Linked DNA regions of Homo sapiens. The protein of the gene in region 1 purifies or fractionates together with the protein of each later gene. This does not show direct contact. Each region holds a gene or a part of one and is shown in the gene's direction. Other genes may lie near its edges. The genes, in order: MAP10, DNAJC13 and MIB1.

What was found.
Region 2: the proteins of MAP10 (region 1) and DNAJC13 purify together in Homo sapiens (affinity purification with mass spectrometry; one large-scale study listed by BioGRID and IntAct). This does not show direct contact.
Region 3: the proteins of MAP10 (region 1) and MIB1 purify together in Homo sapiens (affinity purification with mass spectrometry; one large-scale study listed by BioGRID and IntAct). This does not show direct contact.

The regions. Positions count from the first base shown.
Region 1 is NC_000001.11:232,803,783-232,807,535, forward strand, and holds the start of MAP10 (microtubule-associated protein 10), read left to right. Parts: upstream 1-1,633; 5' UTR 1,634-1,667; coding exon 1,668-3,753. UniProt on the Homo sapiens protein: Microtubule-associated protein (MAP) that plays a role in the regulation of cell division; promotes microtubule stability and participates in the organization of the spindle midzone and normal progress of cytokinesis.
Region 2 is NC_000003.12:132,455,419-132,459,071, forward strand, and holds part of DNAJC13 (dnaJ homolog subfamily C member 13), read left to right. Parts: intron 1-816; coding exon 817-983; intron 984-1,082; coding exon 1,083-1,162; intron 1,163-1,244; coding exon 1,245-1,414; intron 1,415-1,850; coding exon 1,851-1,950; intron 1,951-3,653.
Region 3 is NC_000018.10:21,813,761-21,817,413, forward strand, and holds part of MIB1 (E3 ubiquitin-protein ligase MIB1), read left to right. Parts: exon of another isoform or gene 1-135; coding exon of another isoform or gene 136-144; intron 145-1,855; coding exon 1,856-2,053; intron 2,054-3,653. UniProt on the Homo sapiens protein: E3 ubiquitin-protein ligase that mediates ubiquitination of Delta receptors, which act as ligands of Notch proteins.

The DNA.
Region 1 (3,753 bases):
TATAATTTAACTATAATTTATAAAGCTGAATAAAGCGGTACATATATAATGCCCAGCAGCAGGTACCTCAAGCTTTACATATCTCAAAACTCAAAGTATTTTTTTCCGTCAAATCTGTGCCTCCTCAATATTTTCACCTTCAGTAGCAGAAGTTTTTCACCCATGACTTTTCTTTCCCATTCACCAAATTTTAAAATTCCTCCATCACAAATGCCTCTTCTGCCACCTCTTTTTAATTTCCACTAGTCCTGACCATGTGCAGGTCATAATTATCTGCCTCTTAGACCACTGCAGTAGTCTTCTAATAGATTGCTCTGAATCCAATTTCTAATTAGTAGAATCCATCCTTTGTATTCCTCCCCATGATACATTTCCAAATATTGCTATGATGTACTTATTCAATCAAAAAAATTTGGACAGAATATAGTCCAAATTCTTTACCATGGCATTCAAGGCTCTCCAAAAACTGGCCTTGGATTCCTAGCTGGCTAGCTCATTGAGGTTAGGAGTATGTTTCTTAAAATATCTGGATAGAGCAGCAAGTTCTGTGTGTCTCTGTAGATGTGTGTATATTTATGTACACACATTTGTTTTATTGATGGAATCATTAACATTACTCTCATGCATCATGATTGCTTAGCTGGAAATGTTGTCAAATAAAAAACAGGGCCAGACAGTAGTTGAAGTGGCAAAAACACTGTAGTCAGGAACTACTGCAATAAGAGAAAAGAGACCTCAATACAGAGCTGGGCTCAATTCCAATTACAGCATGGACAAGTGGGGATTTAAAGCCAAGGGGGCGTCAGGTCAAGTGGATGGAAACTTACTGATAGGGAACATCACGGGTGGGAGGGTTCTGATTAAGCAGGCCTAATAGGATTCTTGCTGAAGCCAGGCCAGGGTGGTCAGATACCAATGATAGAAAATGAAGAATTTGATCAGGTATCGACGGTAATCAGGTATGAAGGGTTGGGGGTTCTCTCTCAACAGCCGTAGCGAGACCTTTGCTACAACTCGGTGATCCAGGGTCCACAGGATTGGAAGCCAAGGTCAAGGCCTAGTCGGAAAGAAGGCTTAGATGAGCCTGACCAAAGTTCAGCCAAGGAGAGTTTTTGCCAGTGTATTCACACTCCGTGTGTGTGTGGTGTGTCTGTCTCAGTACTACTGTAATTGATGAGGCAGGGGCTCCCTGGCCATCCCAGCAGTGTCACCATCTTTTGGGTAGAACAGCAGACACAGAGATGGCCCACTGTGGACAGTTAACTAACTGGCTCTGTTTAGCATGGGAAAGGAAGGAGAGTCCTGATTTTCTTTCAATATTCCTCAGGTATATTGATCTGACCCCCAAGTTACATAAGATCTGCAGTGATAAAACCATTACCCAAAAAACTCACTGTCTTTTACCACTTATATCCTCAGCATTATCATCAATTGTCTTAATACAAGGTTGGTGGCAAAAAACGGCTCACAAGTATGCATACAAAGGGGCCAAACACATTGAGCAGCAAAACCCCCAAAGCAGACACCGCCCGAGACCCGCTGGAGCGCTTCCGCAAATCTCGCGAGATAGCAGGCAGCGATGCCTTTTGCTCCGGTTTCTCGTGAGACCCCGGGGCTTCAGCTTCTCGTTTGCGGAGCCCGCGGCGGCGTTTCCTGGGGCAACAGCAATGGCGGCCTCGCTGTCCGAGCGGCTCTTCTCGCTGGAGCTGCTGGTGGACTGGGTGCGTTTGGAAGCCCGGCTGCTGCCGTCCCCCGCTGCCGCAGTGGAGCAGGAGGAGGAAGAGGAGGAAAAGGAGCAGGGGGAGGCCTCGTCGCCGCGCGGTCTGTGCCCCGCCGTGGCCTTCCGCCTGCTGGACTTCCCCACGCTGTTGGTTTACCCTCCTGACGGCCCCGGCGCTCCCGCCGCCGAACCGTGGCCCGGTGTCATCCGCTTCGGTCGCGGCAAGTCCTGCCTCTTCCGCCTGCAGCCTGCTACCCTGCACTGCCGGCTCCTGCGGACCCCGCTTGCCACCTTGCTGCTGCAGCTGCCCCCTGGGCGCCCGACGCCCACCCCACAGCTCCTGGGGGCCTGCGACATTTCGCTGGCCACCGCAGCGCACAGGGTCGTGGGGCCGGCCGCCTCCGGATGCTCCCACCGTCACCGGGGACGTTTCCCCCTGCATAATCGAGTGGGCGAGCGGACTGGGGACATTGCACTGGCCTACCGCCTGACTGACCTGGGAAGCCGCCTGCTGAGCCAACTTGAGCGGCCCCTCACCTTCACCCGCACAGGAGGAGGAGCGGAGGTCAGTCCCCAAACCCAGCAGGAAAGACAGCAGCTGCAGCAGCCAGCCTCACAGCCAAGCCCAAAAGAGGCTGATAAGCCGCTGGGGGAGTTAGAAATCCCAGAGGCACAGAAGGATTTGAAGGAAATGGTTAAAAGTAAGGCCGAATGTGATAATGTGGGTTCTGTGGAGAATGGCAAAACCAATTCTGTTGTTACATGTTCAGGTGCTGGCAATGGGAGAAATGTTAGCTCCCTAAATGAGGAAGTCACAGAATTGGACATGGAGACCAATATATTTTGCCCTCCTCCTTTGTATTACACTAACTTGACCCAAGAAAAACCGCCCCCTGCACAGGCTAAAATCACCATTGAGCCTCAAATGAATGCACCTGAGGAAATGGATGATGCTTCTCCTGAAAAAAAGCGTGTAAATCCCCCAGCACACAGGAGTTGTCTAAAGCATCCAAGTTCTGCAGCACACGAACATCCTCCAATGCTTGTAAATCCTCCACATATTCAGAATATAGGAGCAACTAATCAAACATGTCAAACTGAACAAAATCGAATTAATACAATAAGGCAGTTGCCTTTGTTAAATGCTTTGTTAGTTGAGTTGTCCTTGTTATATGACCAACCTGTGACAAGTCCTGCTCATATACATCCTCACCTAGCCTGGTTATATAGGACTGAGGATAAGAAGTCACCCGAATCTTCTGCCAAATCCACATGCCGGTCTGAAGCCAAGAAGGATAAGCGTTCTGTGGGGGGATGTGAAAAGTCAGTGAGTCTTCAGTATAAAAAGAACCAAATTGAAAACTATAAGGAAGATAAATATTCTGAAAAGAGCAGTGGTGCCCTCCATAAAAGAGTTCCAAAAGGGAGGCTACTTTATGGCTTAACAAATACACTAAGACTACGTTTAAAGCTGACAAATCCTGATATGTTGGTGGTACATGAAAAAAGAGAACTATATAGAAAAAGACAATCACAAATGTTGGGTACAAAATTCAGAATTCCGTCATCCAAAGTTAAACTATTAAGCTCTGCAGAACAAAGTCAGAAGCCACAACTGCCTGAAGATAAGTATTTAGATTCAGATGCATCTTTCACTGAAAATAGTGATACCTCAAGACAAATCAGTGGAGTTTTTGATGAGCCCAGCACAAGTAAAGAAACTAAACTGAAATATGCAACTGAAAAAAAGACAGTTGATTGTAGTAAAAATAGAATCAATAATGTTTCATTGGAAGAAGTTGTGAGTCCTGCAAATTCCATTATTCCAGAAAGGCTTACCCCTACAAATATTCTGGGAGGAAATGTGGAAATGAAAATCCAAAGTCCATGTGTTTTCCAACAGGATGCTGTTGTTGACAGAATTGTAGATAAGGAAATAGATATTAGACAGGTCAAAACCACAGATAATGACATTCTTATGGCTGATATAAGTGACAAGAGAACAGGTAAAAATAGTTGCTATGAAAACATCT
Region 2 (3,653 bases), on another chromosome or scaffold:
AAACAGTTTGATAATTTCTTAAAAGATTAAACACATACTTATATGGTCTAGCAGTTCCACTTTTAGGTATCTATCCAAGAGAGATGAAAAGATGCCCACAGAGAGACTTGCACATGAATGTTCGTAATATCATTACTCATAGCCAAAAACAGAAGCAATCCATATCTAGATCAGCCAGTGAATAAACAGACAAAATGTTGCCTGTTCATACAATGGAATACTACTCAGCAATAAAAAAGGACTGACCTAATACATGCAACAACTTGGATGAATCTCAAAAGCCTATGTATGATAAGTAAAATAAGCAAGACACCTAAGACTACATATTCTATAATTCTGTTTTTATGAAGTTTCTTTAAAAAGCAAAACTATAGAGATAGATCAGTGGTTTCCTGGGGCTGGGGAGTGTTCTTTTGCAAATGGGCACAAGGAAATTTTTTGGAGTGATGAAAATATATCAGAACTGATGATGATTATACAGTTGTATAAATTTATTAAAAATTATCAAACTGTACGTTTTAATTGGATGACTTGTGATTTGTCAATTAGAACCGAGTAAAGCTGTTAAAAATAATTTTAAAGGGAGAGAAAGAGAAATTAAAATTAGTGTTTAAGTAACTTGTACAAGGTCATGTAGCAGCACGGTGAAGAGCTAGTATTAGAGCTCTTCCTAAAGCCCCACTGTTTGTGTTTCCCATTGTAACTGTAGTGTGTCCCTGAGCAGATTACCTGCTAAAGGGCCTATGCTTCATGCTAGATCAAAATTCCCCTTAATCATCAATGCTAAAACCTTTTTTTACTTTTAATCTTACTTAGAGATTCCTTATTAGCAAGTTTGCTGGATGGAGTAAGAGCCTCTGGTAATAGAGATGTTTGTGTAAAAATGACACCAACCCATAAAGGTCAGCGATGGGGGTTACTCAGCATGCCTGTTGATGAGGAAGTAGAGAGCCTTCACCTCAGGTTCTTAGCTACGCCTCCAAGTAAGTATTGATTTAAATGTAATTACATTTCCACTCATCTACTTAATTTAAGAATTAGGAATTCGTATCTTCTTTTTGAACCTCTTAATCTCTTTACAGATGGCAACTTTGCAGATGCTGTATTCAGGTTCAATGCTAATATTTCATACAGTGGAGTCCTACATGCAGTAACACAAGATGTAAGCTAAGTTTTATCATAATTGTTCATTGTTACTAACTTTTGGTATGGAAACTTTTTTGAAATACTCTTTCTTCACCTAGGGTCTCTTCTCAGAAAACAAAGAAAAACTGATCAATAATGCCATAACAGCATTACTGTCCCAAGAAGGGGATGTCGTTGCTTCAAATGCGGAACTTGAGAGTCAGTTCCAGGCTGTGAGGAGGCTTGTGGCATCCAAAGCTGGTTTCCTGGCTTTCACTCAGCTTCCAAAGTAAGTTGTCTTCTGAAACTTAACTTCTCTTAGAGAATTTGAACTACTCAAAATGGCAAATAATGAACGATTCACCTCCTTTTCCTTGACTAAACCAGATACCTTTTATAGGGTGATATGGTACTTTATTCATGAGAAATGAAAAAGGAAGGTGAGGGCAGCAGAAGCGGAATATTGGTCCCATACTCACCAGTAATATAACTGACTCTTGAATTTGAATGGGAAATTACATGCCTTTTAGTTTTAGTTAACCCTAAAAAATATTTTCCCTCTCAAAGAAAAAACTATTATGAAGACTGATAAATTTCAGAGGTGGAATTTAAAATACGTCATTGTTCCAGTAGTGCAATGGAAAGTTAATATGATCTATTTCAATAATATAACAATTTAAAATGTTCTGGTATTGCTAGTATATGCTTGTTTTTTGTTCCAAAAGGTTTCGCGAGCGTCTAGGGGTGAAGGTAGTAAAAGCACTCAAAAGAAGCAACAACGGAATAATCCATGCAGCAGTTGATATGCTTTGTGCCCTTATGTGTGTAAGTAGTAGTTTTCTTAAGGAAACTGGTTTTTCTTAAGTTGACTGGTGGTTTTGATTTCCACAGTCCCAGATTTTCATTGTACCAATAAGTTCTTGTTTCTGTTTCATAAATTGTTCTCATAGTTACTCAAACCTTTGTTTAGCATATCCTAAATACCAGGCAATGTGCTGTGTGCCAGAAATTCAAAGATCTTAAGACAGAAGTTCTTTTCTTCCTCACTTTGTTGACAGTCTGGTAAGGTAGGCATATCTGTACAAGGTAAGGTAGTAGGGGCCATAGGATCTTGAAAAGCAGCACTTTATTTTTGTTTGGTGATGAGGGGAAGATGAAAGATTCTCACCCAGTCTTTCTGGAAGATGTTACATTTGATCTGAATCTTGAAGGACAGGCAGGAATTTTCTAGCTCTGGAAAGGCCTTCCTGGGTGGGGAATAGCATATAAAAAGGCATGTTTGGAAAGCAACAAATAATTAAATATGGTTGGGTTATAAGGTATGGATGGGGGGTAATTAGGAGTTGCAGCTAGAGATGTATGCAGACAGTAATAAAAAACCTTCTGTATCAGGAGGGAGGAGCTAGATTTTTATCTTTTTGTAAGGAACACCTGAAGGATTTTTTTTAGCAAGAGAGCAGTAATGTGATCAGGTTTGAGTTTTTAAAAACCCACACTGGTAGTATGTGGAGAATAGAAGTAAAATTAGAGGCAGGTAGACCAAATTGTCACGTAAGAAATGAGTTGCTGAGCTAGGGTAGTCACAGGGCTAAAGAAGCAGCACACCTGAAAGCTGTTTGCGCAGTAAAGATCTAACTTAGTGGCAGCTTGTACAGAGGGAGAAACAATTGTTTAGTACAGTTTTGAAGTTTCTGATTATCTCAGTTTTGTGTGTAGTACCTGGGACTTTTCCTTATATAAAGTGTTTTAGGCAAGCTTAGTCGTACATAAACATAAGTAAATACTTCTGTAAAACCTTGCATTCCCAAAAGCAAATTAATTTTATTTACTGTTCCAAACAAGTAGTGAGATAACTAGAACTTAACAATGATATGGAGAGTTGCTTTATTCGAACAAAAGATGTTCCTATTACCCAGGAAATTCTAATGGTAGAGAGCTTTGTGTCAGGCTCCCCTATCAGGAAATTGCAAAGTTCTTAGGAGCTCTGTGTCAGGAACCAGGGTAAAAGACTGTTGCAACAAAAGATTCTGCTAGTGCCCCTGTCTGCAAGGGTTTTAGGTGCTCTATGTCAGGAGCCAAGGATGGAGACCAATGTATATATTTTTTAATATTTCATGTATTCTCCCTGCTCAGAATTCTTTCCCTGCTTATTCATTAAGAGCTCAAGTCAGCTTTTAAATGAAGCTTACCAAATATACACACCTACTATGTACCCACAACAATTAAAATAAAATTTTAAAAATAAATGGAGCTTTCTTATTCCTGAAGGTGGTAGTGATGTATCCCTCCCTGAAGTGAGATTACCCTTCATAAATATTACACTTGTCTTTCTTAGCAATTTCTTCTTTGAATTATTGCTATTTCTAAACATGATGTATTTTTCTCAATCTGTCAGCTTCCTGAGGATAATATTCATGTTTAATTTTAATTTTTATCCTTAACAGGCCTTGTCAAGCTGTTTAATAAATAATGATTAATTTTTTTCTGTGTTTCAGGTACTATTCTATGAATTTTTCATATATTATTCA
Region 3 (3,653 bases), on another chromosome or scaffold:
CTGGGTGCCATATGGATTGTCAGACCCCTTGCAAAACTAGGGAGTCCACCAGGGGCTGGCACAGTGGTATTGGGAATCGGAAACCACTGCTTTGGATGGAGGAAGTCTTAGAGTACCAGGATCAGGGACAGACACATGGTCTTGGTGGGTGTTAAAATTTGCAATGCAGTATTGGAATAAATGCAATACGCTTATACCTACTACCCTTTTCCATCTGCTTCTGGCAAGGCAGTGAGACTTCTTTTCATACTTTTTGGTATAAGCTATGTATACTACCTTCATGGCGCAGTGCAGGCAGTTTTTCCCCTTTATAAAGTACCTTCTTTTAGTTTTAAAAAATTTAAGCAATTTGGTCTTTCCTGCCTTCTCATTTCTTCAGAAATATGCCTGTTACAGGAGGTGAGGCAAATCTATTTGATTCTTCTGAAATAGTTTTGGAATTTTTGATATATGGAATTTTGGTAGTTTATGCTTCGTTTTTATCTTTTAATGGTGTATTTAATTTTTTTTCTGTTCTCGAATATACAGAAAAATGTATGCTCATCACTTAACCAGTTTTAATGTGTTGATAAATTGCTCCCCATTAAAGCCAGTTGAGATCACATTGTTTGGCATTCTTTTTTTTTTTTTCAATCACACAACTCATCTTAGTTTACTTTTTGTGTCATCTTTGTAGGACGTGCACGGTGGCTCACACCTATGATCCCAGCATTTTGTGAGGCTGAAGTTGGAGAATTTATTAAGGCCAGGAGTTAAAGGCTGCAGTGAGCTATGACTGCCACTGCATTCCAGCCTGGGTGACAGAACAGGACCCTGATTCTTTTTTTATTGAGAGGCAGTCTTGCTCTGTCGCTCAGGCTTGGAGTGCAGTGGCCCGATCTCAGCTCACTGCAACCTCTGCCTCCCGGATTCAAGCAGTTCTCCTCCCTCAGCCTCCCGGGTAGCTGGGATTACAGGCATGTGCCACCATGTCTGGCTAATGTTTGTAATTTTAGTAGAGACGGGTTTTCTCCGTGTTGGCCAGGCTGGTCTTGAACTCCTAACTTCAGGTGATCCGCCCGCCTTGGCCTCCCAAAGTGCTGGGATTACAGGTGTGAGCCACTGCGCCTGGCCTAGGACCCTGATTCTTTAAAAACAACAACAACAACAACAACAAAAATGGTCTTTGTAAAAATTTTTAAATGTCAAAAAAAATTGGCTTACCATCATGGCTGATAAATGAGGAATGCTGAAAGTTCAAGCTGTTGGTTTTATATATATATATATATATATATATATATATATATATATATATATAAAATTATATATAAATGTATATATATAAATAAATAAATACATATATATAAAATGATCTAAGTTTATCATTTATCTTTGGGAGTTAGTCACTGTTCAAGTCAGTTTCTAGGTTTTAAAAAATTTTTTTATAGAGACAGGGTCTCACTCTGTTGCCCCGGTCAGAGTGCAGTGGTGCGATCATAGCTCACTGTAACTTGAAACTCCTTGGCTCAAGCAATCCTCCTGTGTCAGCCTCCCAAGTAGCTGGGACTACAGGTGGGTGCCACCATGCCTGGCTCTCTCTACAAGACAGGATCTTGCTATGTTGCCCAGATTGGTATTGTTGGAAATCTTACTCACATTTACAGTTTACTTGGCCTCAAGTGATCCTTCTGCCTTGTCCTCCCAAAGTGCTGGGATTACAGGCATGAGCCACTGCACCTGGTCAAGTTCTAGTTATTTTGTTGTTTCCTACATTGCCTTTTCTCAAATTAATCTGCTTCTTGGTATATTATTATAGCTTCAAGGTTTTTTTCTTTCTAAAATATTCACTAATTCACATTTCAATACTAATGATTAGGATAAAGATGGTGATAGAGCAGTTCACCATGCAGCTTTTGGAGATGAAGGCGCTGTTATAGAAGTACTACATCGAGGTAGTGCTGATTTGAATGCTCGAAACAAGCGCCGACAGACACCACTTCATATTGCTGTCAATAAAGGTCATCTTCAAGTTGTGAAGACTTTATTGGACTTTGGCTGTCATCCCAGTCTCCAGGTAAAACCTTTAAAGAAACACATCCTGCAGGTATTGCTAGGATCCTATTAAAGGGAAACATTAAGTTCTATGGTAAGCATTCCTTTGTTACCGTTCTCATATGTCATAGTAAATGATACCAAAGGCGTAAGATGTTACAAAATTGGCAGCTATTTCTTTTTTAAAAAGTTGTTTTTTTTTAGGGAAAATGCCAATAGATTGGGTTTTGATTGGGCAGGGAGAATGAGGACTTCTTTGTAAAAATATCAGCTTATGAATGGATTTAACTTTATTGATCATGACAGTGAGCTCAACAGCTTAAAGAAGTGTAATAGGCTATATTTCATAATAGTTACTTCATAACTATTTAAATTATTTTAATTGTAGCTTTTATTGTAGCTTAGGGACTTTGAATAGTCGTTAGTGTAATCTTCGGAGATTTCTGTTTTGGAAAATGTATAGGATTTTAGAGTTGATTTACAGTAGGATCTAATTTTTGAAGCAATGATTGCCTAAGAAATGATTATCCCCAGCTACAGTTTTATAACCAGATAAATTAAACCACAAATATATAGAAAATGTAGTCTGTGTCCATTTTCTGCTTAGTTTGGTTACTAAGCAACTTGTCTTTTGTGCACCTGTTTGATTAAAGTTTCTATACTTAGTAATTTTGTAGCTCCTGAATCTAATTTGCCAACTTTTAGGTTCCTTAACCGAATAGGCTTGAAACAACATATTATTTTTAAATAAAAGTGTTCCCTGAAATACTATTTGAATATGTAAAACATAATTTGTTTCCATTGGAAACTCAATAATGATTTTTTAAAAAGTAGGGCAGTGGTTAGAATCATAAGCTGCTTGTAGTTTAGATAATTTACAGCATCCAGGAATTGGTTGCTGGATTGGATAGATCTCAGAGAAGAAATAAAGAACAGTAGTAGTGGGAATGAGGGCTTGAGAAGAACTGAAAGAATAGATTTTGTTCAGCTAGATAATTATTAGAAATTAAGGTTTTTGAAGTGCAGCTGTTTTGGAACTGTTGGGATCTAGAGTATGTCCTTGTAAGTGGGAGGCAGGATTGGAGGATGAGGGAAGAATTGGGGGGGTGTTAATCTGTAAGGAGAGGTGATTTATACCTGCTGACGTTTTTTGTCTGAAATGGGAGACAAGTTCATCTGTTGAGAGTGGTGGGTAGAGAAAGAGTAATTGAGAAGAGTGATAAGGACTTGGGGACCTGCAGAAGGGTGTTCCAATCATGTTAGAAGCCCGTTTCAGGTTGAACACTACAGATTTTTAGTGCCGCCAGATACAGGAGTAGAAGGTAGATGGTAGATGGTTGGATTGAACTTGGGTTAGGAATTCTTTTTTTTTTTTTTTTTTTTTTTTTGAGGCAGGGTCTTGCTCTGTTGCCCAGGCTGGAATTCAGTGGCGTGATCATGGCTCATTGCAGTCTCAACCTTCAGGGCCCACCTCAGCCTCCCGAGTAGCTGGGACTACAGGTGTGAGCTGCCATGCCTGGCTAATTTTTTGTAGAAATGCCCAGGTTGGTCTCAAACTTCTGGTCTCAAGCAATCTTCCTGCTCCCACCTCCCAAAGTCCTGGGATTACCGGTGTGAGCCAC